Homo sapiens: one gene and its partner. The protein of the gene in region 1 purifies or fractionates together with the protein of each later gene. This does not show direct contact. Each region holds a gene or a part of one and is shown on either strand. Other genes may lie near its edges.

Region 1 (4,447 bases):
AGCCAAACCACACGCACTGCACTCCCAGACACACTCCAGTCTGGTGAGCCCCATTCCACTACCCCTCCCAGATGACAAGGGGCCAGACTCAGTGGCCCCACCCCTGACTGGATCTCTGAAGTCCTGACCTCCAACCAGTGGTGGGCTCCTTCTTGAGGATTTGAGCACACGGGGACCTGAACAGAGAGGCCTATTGTCCCCGAACACCCCAAGGCAGACACACACCTGCCCTGGCAGGACAAACGGCGTCCACTTGCTGAGGGTGAAGTCCCCACGATGGGCTGTTCTGGGCACCTGGAGGCAGGTGGAGTCAGGGACTGGATGTCTCTATAGGATGGTTCAGGGACCAGGAAGATAATCAGTTTTCCGTAGGAAGCAAGACATCTGGTGACTGCTCCGTTCTACCCCAATTCTCACTCACTCTGGCCAGTGAAGCCCCTTCAGGAACAACGCCAGCCAAGCAGTTTGGTTTGGGGAAAAGATGATCTGTTGACTCCAGAGCAGCCTCTGTGCTCATGGAGACCCCGTCGCAGGTCGAGGACGGTGGACACCACAATTCCCAGCTGTCAATACAGGAGGGGACTTTGTTTTCCTGGGTCACCAAGAAAGAACAAGAGAACGCTGGGGCCTTAGTCCTAGAGAACACCTGGGGGAACCGTCCCCCCCAGGAATACTCGGGGCAAACGGAAGGCAAGGCCTCTAGAGGACCAGACAGAGAGAATGGGACGCTGCAGGAGGGTTCCAGTCCCCAAGCCTCTTTGACCAGGAGAGACGATTGTCACCCTCCAGGCAGCCCTCCAGGGCTCCTTCATTTTCCACAACTGCCTGAGGGCAGAGGGCTCCCCACCCCACTCCTAGATGAAGGACCCCATGTGTCCAGTGGGTCCCACAGCAACCATCAGTGACCTCCTCCTGTGGGGACCAAGCTTAGGGCACAGACTTGGACCAAGAATTTCACCCTCCACCCCACCCACAGGGGCTCTGTCCCAGTGGCTCTTCCAGGACCAGACCCTGCCTCATTGAATTCCAGAACTCAAGGAAGATTTGGAATCTAGGGTAGAGAGGCCTCAGCGGTCAAAGCTCAAGTCCAGCATGGCAAAGGGTAGGGCTGAGTGCACGGCCCGGGTCACATCTGGGTCTCTGGGCCAGTCACCGCCTCTCTGACTCTACACATCTCACCTGTGGAATGGCTACATTTGGGGACAGCACCCATCGCCACAGAGTCTCTGTGAGGACAAAGGAGAGGATGGTCCACGCCGTCAGTGCAGAACATGTACCCGGTGAGTGCTCAGGGGTGACCCTCGTCGGCATCTGCCCAGAGGTCACTCACCTGAGTCTGCTCAGGCTGCTGTGTCTCTCGCTTAGAAAAGTCGTTCATGCACCACAGAACCAGACACCTGTGTGCGTCTTATGTGCAAGTGCTGCACAACACAGAGGTGAGTGGGTGGGCAGGTGGGCGGTCACTCAGCACCAGTGACATTTTGAGGTCATGGCACCCATCATAATGGGCCATTGCCCAGGTCAAGAGGGCCCAGAGTCGGTGTCCTCCAGCCCCTAAGGTGTCAAAATGTGTTTGTGCAGGTGAGCATGTATGTTTATGTGGGTGAACATGTGTGTGCACGAGTAGCGTCTCTGGCCAGGGCTGGCTGTCCCACTTACATGTGCACCCAAGTGCTCATCAAGTCTTAATCAGCGTCACCTTCCCTTGAGGCCTGTGGCAAGCATCAGAGCATCCATGGGTCCTCCCCAACCTCAGAACTCCCCACACGGGGCAGTCCTGAAGATGCAGATGGGGGCTAGGGGTTAGAGGGCACAGGACAGGGCCCCTCATTAGGGGGAACTCAGCTAGACTGTAAAATGCTGGGTGTGAGTGGCAAGGTCGGATTCCACACATTTTTTCACCTCCTCCTCCCAGTAGCCTTCCAGGGTGCCATGACTCATTTCTGCTATGGACGGAGGCAAGGAGGCTCTAAGGACAAACCCCGTGCCTGAGGTCACCAAGCAACCATCTGGCCAGGCCCCCACTAACCAGACCCCTGCCGGCCAGGCTTTCACTGACCGTTTTCCCAGTGACCAGGCCTTCTGACTAGGTCCTCACTGATCAGGCCCCTGATGACCAGGCTCCAACTGACCATGTCCCCACTGACCAGTTTTTCACTGACTAAGCCCCAGTGGCCAAGCCTCTGCTGACCAGGCCCCTGATGACCAATTCCCCACTGACCATGTCCTCGCTGACCAGTCCCCCAGTGACCAGGCCTTCCTGACCAGGTCCCCACTGTCCAAGTCCTCCCTGCCCAGGCCCCAGAGCAGCAGTGTTCAAGGTCCTCTACCACAACTGCCCACAGGCAGAGGGCTCCCTACTCCCAGACAAGGGACCCCATGTGTCCAGTGGGTCCCACGGAGACCCTCAGTGACCGCACGTGAAGTCTGAGTTGGTGAGACCTCCTCCTGCGGACACCCAGCTTAGGGCACAGACTTGGACCGAGCACCACCTCCCTCCACCACACCCATAGGAGTTCCATCCCAGTAGCTCTTTCAGGGCCAGACTCTGCCCCATCAGGGGCCAGAAAACCCTGGGCAGATTTGGAATCTAGGGCCATAGAGACCAGGGCATGCACAGGGCAGGGCTGAGAGCACAGCCCAGGATCACATCTGGGTCTCTTGGCCAGTCACCTCCTCTCTGACCCTAGACATCTCACTTGTGGAATGGGTACATTCGGGGACAGCACCCACCCCACAGAGTCCACCAGGTCAGTGCAGAACAGGCACCTGGTGAGTGCTCAGGGATGACCCTCCTCGGCACCTGCCCAGAGGCTAGCCCTGCCCACCAGGTAATGACTGTACCCAGGTCAGCAGGGAAGGAACAGAGCAGGTCACACTCACCTGAGTCAGTTGAGTCAGTTGTGTCTCTCACTTAGCAAAACTTCCTTTTCTCAGAACCAGACACCTCTATGTCTTATCTCTAAGAGCTCCAGACATAGAGACGGCAAGCGGACAGGTGGGCGAGTGCTCAGCACCAGTGACATTGTGAGGTCATGACACCCATCACAATGGGCCCCTGCCTGGGTCAGCCGGGACCAGAGTCAGCACCCTCCACCCCTTGAAGTGTCAACGTGCGTGTGTGCAGTGTTTGTGCATGTGAGCATGCACGTGTATGTGGGTGAACACATGTGTGCATGCGTTTGTCACTGCTCTGGCTAGGCCCAGCTGCCCCACTCATATGTGCACCCAGGACACTGGGTCACCCTTGTCACTCTCTCCCCCCTCGGGACCCATGGCCATCATCAGAGCATCCACAGGTGCTCCCTAAACTCAGACCTCCCCATCCAGGGCATTCCTGGGATTGCAGATGGAAGATAGGGGGCAGAAGGTTGAGGGTTGGGGGCAAAAGGCAAAGGGCAGGTCCCCTCCCTAGCAGGGGACTCATCTAGGCTGTAAAGTGCTAGATCTGTTTGGCAGGGCTGGATTCCACACACCTGCTCACCTCCTCTTCCCAGCAGCCCTCCGGAGTGCCATGACTCGTTCCCACTACAGATGGCGGCAAGGAGGCTCCAAGGACAAACCCTGCCTGAAGTCACCTAGCTGCCACCTGGCCAGGCTTCTGCCAGCCAGACCCCCACTGACCAGGCCCCCACTGACCAGGCCTTCACTGACCACGTTCCCACTGACCCCACTGAGCAGAACCCTGAGCCGCGGTGATCAATGTCCCCTGCCAATGACCCCCCTCAGTCCACAGACCTCCCCTCCCCACATCAGCACCCACAGGCCATCCCCTGGGGGTCTTCTCGGGTCAAGGCCCCCACTCCAGGACACAGGGAGGGACAGTCGGCCTCAGGCTCTGGGTGCCCAGCTTCATGCTCGCCCCCAAAAGCCCTCTGCGCTCAACCTTAAAGGGGGCAGTGAGGTGGCCTGGCACTGCCTGGACATGATGTCTCGGCCTATTCCTGAGCCGCAGAGCCAGAGGAACGGGGGGACGTTTGTCAGACCAGGCACCCCGTTTTGCTGGGTCTCCCAGGGTTCTTCCTGCGGAGGCTGGATCCAGAGGCGCAGCACCGAGGCTGCAGGGTGACCGGCCCAGAAGCCTCGAGACTGGGCTGGGGACCACATGAGAACTGTCCCCAGATGGCCAGAAGACCCTTTGCTAATTTCCTGGTAGCTCATTTCCCACCAGCTACCCTTGCCCCACCAGGAATCCCCTTCTGGCAGAGTCAATGAGGAGAGGAAGATGGTCACAGAATCCATGGAAAGAAAGAAAACAAAATGACAATGGAACATCATCTATTTCCTGTCCATCTGAAAGGAAAGCCTAAGGAAGCCTATTGGGTTCCATCACCCTGAGGGCCCCGAGGATGGCATCACACAGTGCAATACCCAATGGCAGGGGCGGTGCTCCATCCCTGCAGACGTCATCGAGGGCACACCTGGGGTCGTCTAGGGTCATGGACCT
Region 2 (3,811 bases), on another chromosome or scaffold:
AAGAAAAAGAAAAATCAATCTGGCTGATGTGTGGGGATCCTGGATGCTAGGATCTGTGTTTGGGAGTCAAAGAGAGCTCTAGAGAGTGTTTAAAGAGAAGTGATACAATCTGGGTTTAAGAAGACACTTCCCTCAATAGCATGAAGACCAGGACTTCAGCTCAGGGAAGATGTGACAAGGGTCTGGAGCCGTACCAGTAAGAGGGTAAAAGTGGCATTGCACTCCAGCTGAGGGCTCATCTCAAGGCCACTGGTAAAAGCATGTGGACAGAAGTGACCATGTTAGATGCTAGCAGGGACCAACACCCTGAGCCAGGAGGAAGCCTCACACCAGAAATATATGCCATGGCCCCTCGGCCAAGGGTGCGCTTGTCTTTCATTGGTTTCCTGGAGCTTTTTATTTGGCATGAGAACCATGATGGTGTCCAGTGTTTGGGAAGGGAATTGAGCATTTGGAAACATTTGCAGACAGCCCATCAGAACTGTGGCATGGGGAGGTGGGGAGTCCCACTGAGCCCCCCTCCACTTGGCTCTTAGTGTGGCCATTCTGACTGTGGGACACATTGTGCTTTCCATTTTTCCTTAGAAAGGTCTGCTTTTCATTTTTCGTCTTGCCCCAAAGTATGTGTACAACAAACATTATGCTTTGGGGACGTAGATCTGCGCCCAATTAAAGCCGCCGCTAATGCAGTCCATCTTGCTGAGTAGCAATCAACCTCACTTTGAGGTTGAGCTCAGTGGAAAAATTAAAATTAACTCTTCTTGACAGGAAGCTCCTACCCACCATGAAGACTGTTCTCTCTGGGTTCAGTAACTGGCTTTCAACATAATCAAGTGGCAGTTTGAATGAATAACAGTTTGCACTTTGCCACTTTTGGGGAGCGGGATAGATATGCAACAAGACTCATTGCCTGACACCTCCATATCCACCACACCAGGCTGACGTTGGTTGTGCCTGAGGCAGAGAAAGGGGCTCGTGAGGACCCTGAGACCCGGTGGGTATTTGAGGCCCACCACAAGTTTTCAGGGTCTTGGCTCCCTGGACGGGAAGGGGAGTTGGTATCCTCACACATCACTCTGGGGACTTCCCCCAGCTTCATTCACTCAGAGTTCAGTTGAGGGCTTGAAAGAGCATCCACAGCAGAATGGGAATCTGCAAATAAATGGAGTGCCTCTTACACAGATGTTGTGGGGGAGGCAGAGCCATCATCACAGACACCCATCGTCCAGTCCCCAGATGGGACAGATGCCCAGCTCAGCAATTATTGGGAGTGGGGCAGGCTCAGAGGGTGGTGTCTGACACTAGATTGCTTTGGTTTTGTTTTTAAATTTCAGGGCCACATACATTATCTGCTCACATATGTTAAAAAGAGACTAAGAAACACAGGGGCATTTTGAGGTGATGGGCATGGAGAAAAGGCCGTGTGCCCCACTCCTGGGTCCACATAAATGCCTCTGCTGAGGGAGAAAAGACTTCAGAAAGAAAAACAGATTTAAGAATGTACTTCCAGAATCTAGATGACACAGGAGCTTTAGTTTCTGGTTAGGCACAATCCTAGATGTGATCAGTCTGTTCAATTTTTAAATAATATGTCGTCTCATGACAAAAATAACACATGCTCAATGTAGAATGTAGAAAACATACTCCCCCCTCCAAAAAAATCACCTGTATTTCTACTCCCCTGGAGATAAAGGCTATTGTTAGCTTTTGATGTAAGAACCTCCCATTGTTTCTCTATGCATAGATTTGTATATTTTATAGAAAGGTTTTTTTTTGGTACAATACTATATATATAAAGTTTCAAAACCTTTGACGTGATATATTGTAAACATCTTCCTGTGGCAACATATAAGACTTCAATAACTGCATGCTATTTCATTATATAGGTATGTCCCAATTTTTTCTTACCAAACATTTTGATGTGTTTCTTTGGGCACTCCTCTGTTTATGTCCGTAGGAGACATTTTTAAAGGTGAAATTGCTGGGTCAACAGATATGGCCATTTTAAAATACATTTGATACTTGTTACTAAATTACCCTACAGAAAACTTGCTAAAATTGCTAAAAATTGCAGTCCGTATTCTTTGTCAATTTCATAGACAAAAAAAATTAATGGTGTCTTGTTTTCACTGATTCATTTTAGCAGTGATGGACATTGTTTACACATTTGTTGGACTCATGCAGTTTACTTTTTTTTTTTGTAACCTTTTTTTTACTCTTCCCAGTTCACTGGAATCATGTAGTTTACTTTTTTTTTCTTTTTTTTTTTTGAGACAGAGTCTCGCTCTGTCGCCCAGGCTGGAGTGCAGTGGCGCAATCTCGGCTCACTGCTCACTGCAACCTCCACCTCCCAGGTTCAAGCAATTCTCCTGCCTCAGCCTCCCGAGTAGCTGAGATTACACGTGTGTGCCACCATGCGTGGCTAATTTTTGTATTTTTAGTAGAGACAGGGTTTCACCATGTTGGCCAGGCTGGTCTCAAATTCCTGACTTCAGGTAATCCACCTGCCTCCACCTCCCAAACCCAGTGGAGTCTTAACCGTGCAGTCTTGAGTGTGCCCGTTCCTTGCAAGTGGACTTTAAAACAGTGGGCACATTTCTGGCATCTGATCTCGGTTAGTTCACCTGATGGGAAAGTGAAATGAACCGGCCTTCCGGTGTCTTGGGTGTTCTTGTTACTTGAGGGTGAAGCTCCTCCGTGTTGAGGCACCTGAGAAAACATAGGGCTGACAGCTGAAACTGACGCATGAACTGAGGTGGCAGAACTGCTGGGAGCCTCCGTTTTCTTTGTTTGCTAAATAGTACCGATTACACTGGCAGTACTTTCCTTGTGAGAGTCTTGTGAAGTTGAATGATGCAATACTGAAGCTTCTTTGAGAGGTTAAAAGATGACTCCAAGGGGAAAAGGCAGTGGAAAGATTTATGTCAGAATGTGCTTATCCCATGACAAAATGTGGTAATGGGATTATATGTAGTTTAAATTTTCTTGTTTTTGTCTTTCTACATTTTGTACATTTTCAGTAATGAACGAGTCATATATTCATTTACTATGTAAATATAGCATGATTTGTATTGTTATTTCCTTAGTTTTCAGGAGAGACCATTGTAAAGGCATAAGGTGGCCTCGGGGTTTTTAACTTCTACTGGAAATCTCCTGTCTGCCCCACTCTCCCAAACTCTATTCCTCCAAGGATGGAGGTGAAGAGAAGAGAGTACCCAGGAGGTCTGGTTTTGAGAAATGATGTCGTGTGAGTGATTGGACTCGGCATTTGCCTAACCATGCAAGGAGATGGTTTATGTTGCTTGAGGCCTTGACTGCTAAGCCGTGTTCTGGCAATGAGAAGGCCAGGCCAGGCCAGGGCCTCAGGCTTCTCTCCCCGACCGTCTTGCCTGTGACTGCTGCCCAGCTATGCCTCAGTTGCCTTCAGTAGTTGGAAGTCCTAGTTATTTCAGGTAACGCCCAGCATGTTAAATTCGCAACCTTGACTGTTTTTTGCTGCATCCTAAACTGGCCACACCACCCACACCTCGAAGAAGCAGGTTAATTTCATTCGTGCTCGGTGCCTTAAGGCGGAATTAGTTCCTCCTTTTCGGGGAGAAGGAGCTGTCTCAGCTGACTGACTTGCCTTCACTTCACTTCCCAGGCTCTCAACGCCAGGCCAGCTGTGGCGATGCCTCTGGCTTCTGAGGCTGTGGGTCTGGTCAGAAGCAGAAAAGCAGAAAGGACAAGACAGAGGTTCCCTGGAAAGCCAGCTTGGGCTGGGTGGGTGGGGCAGGCTGCAGGCCTTGGCAGGAATCTGAGCCCAAATGCC

What was found.
Region 2: the proteins of TBC1D28 (region 1) and DUSP29 purify together in Homo sapiens (affinity purification with mass spectrometry; one large-scale study listed by BioGRID and IntAct). This does not show direct contact.

What each region holds. Positions count from the first base shown.
Region 1 is NC_000017.11:18,641,407-18,645,853, forward strand, and holds the start of TBC1D28 (TBC1 domain family member 28), read right to left. Parts: upstream 2,986-4,447; 5' UTR 2,884-2,985; intron 2,878-2,883; exon of another isoform or gene 1,331-2,877; intron 1,227-1,330; exon of another isoform or gene 1,180-1,226; intron 593-1,179; 5' UTR 518-592; coding exon of another isoform or gene 422-517; exon of another isoform or gene 373-421; intron 328-372; coding exon of another isoform or gene 226-327; intron 1-225.
Region 2 is NC_000010.11:75,046,141-75,049,951, forward strand, and holds part of DUSP29 (dual specificity phosphatase 29), read right to left. Parts: intron 1-3,811. UniProt on the Homo sapiens protein: Dual specificity phosphatase able to dephosphorylate phosphotyrosine, phosphoserine and phosphothreonine residues within the same substrate, with a preference for phosphotyrosine as a substrate. Involved in the modulation of intracellular signaling cascades.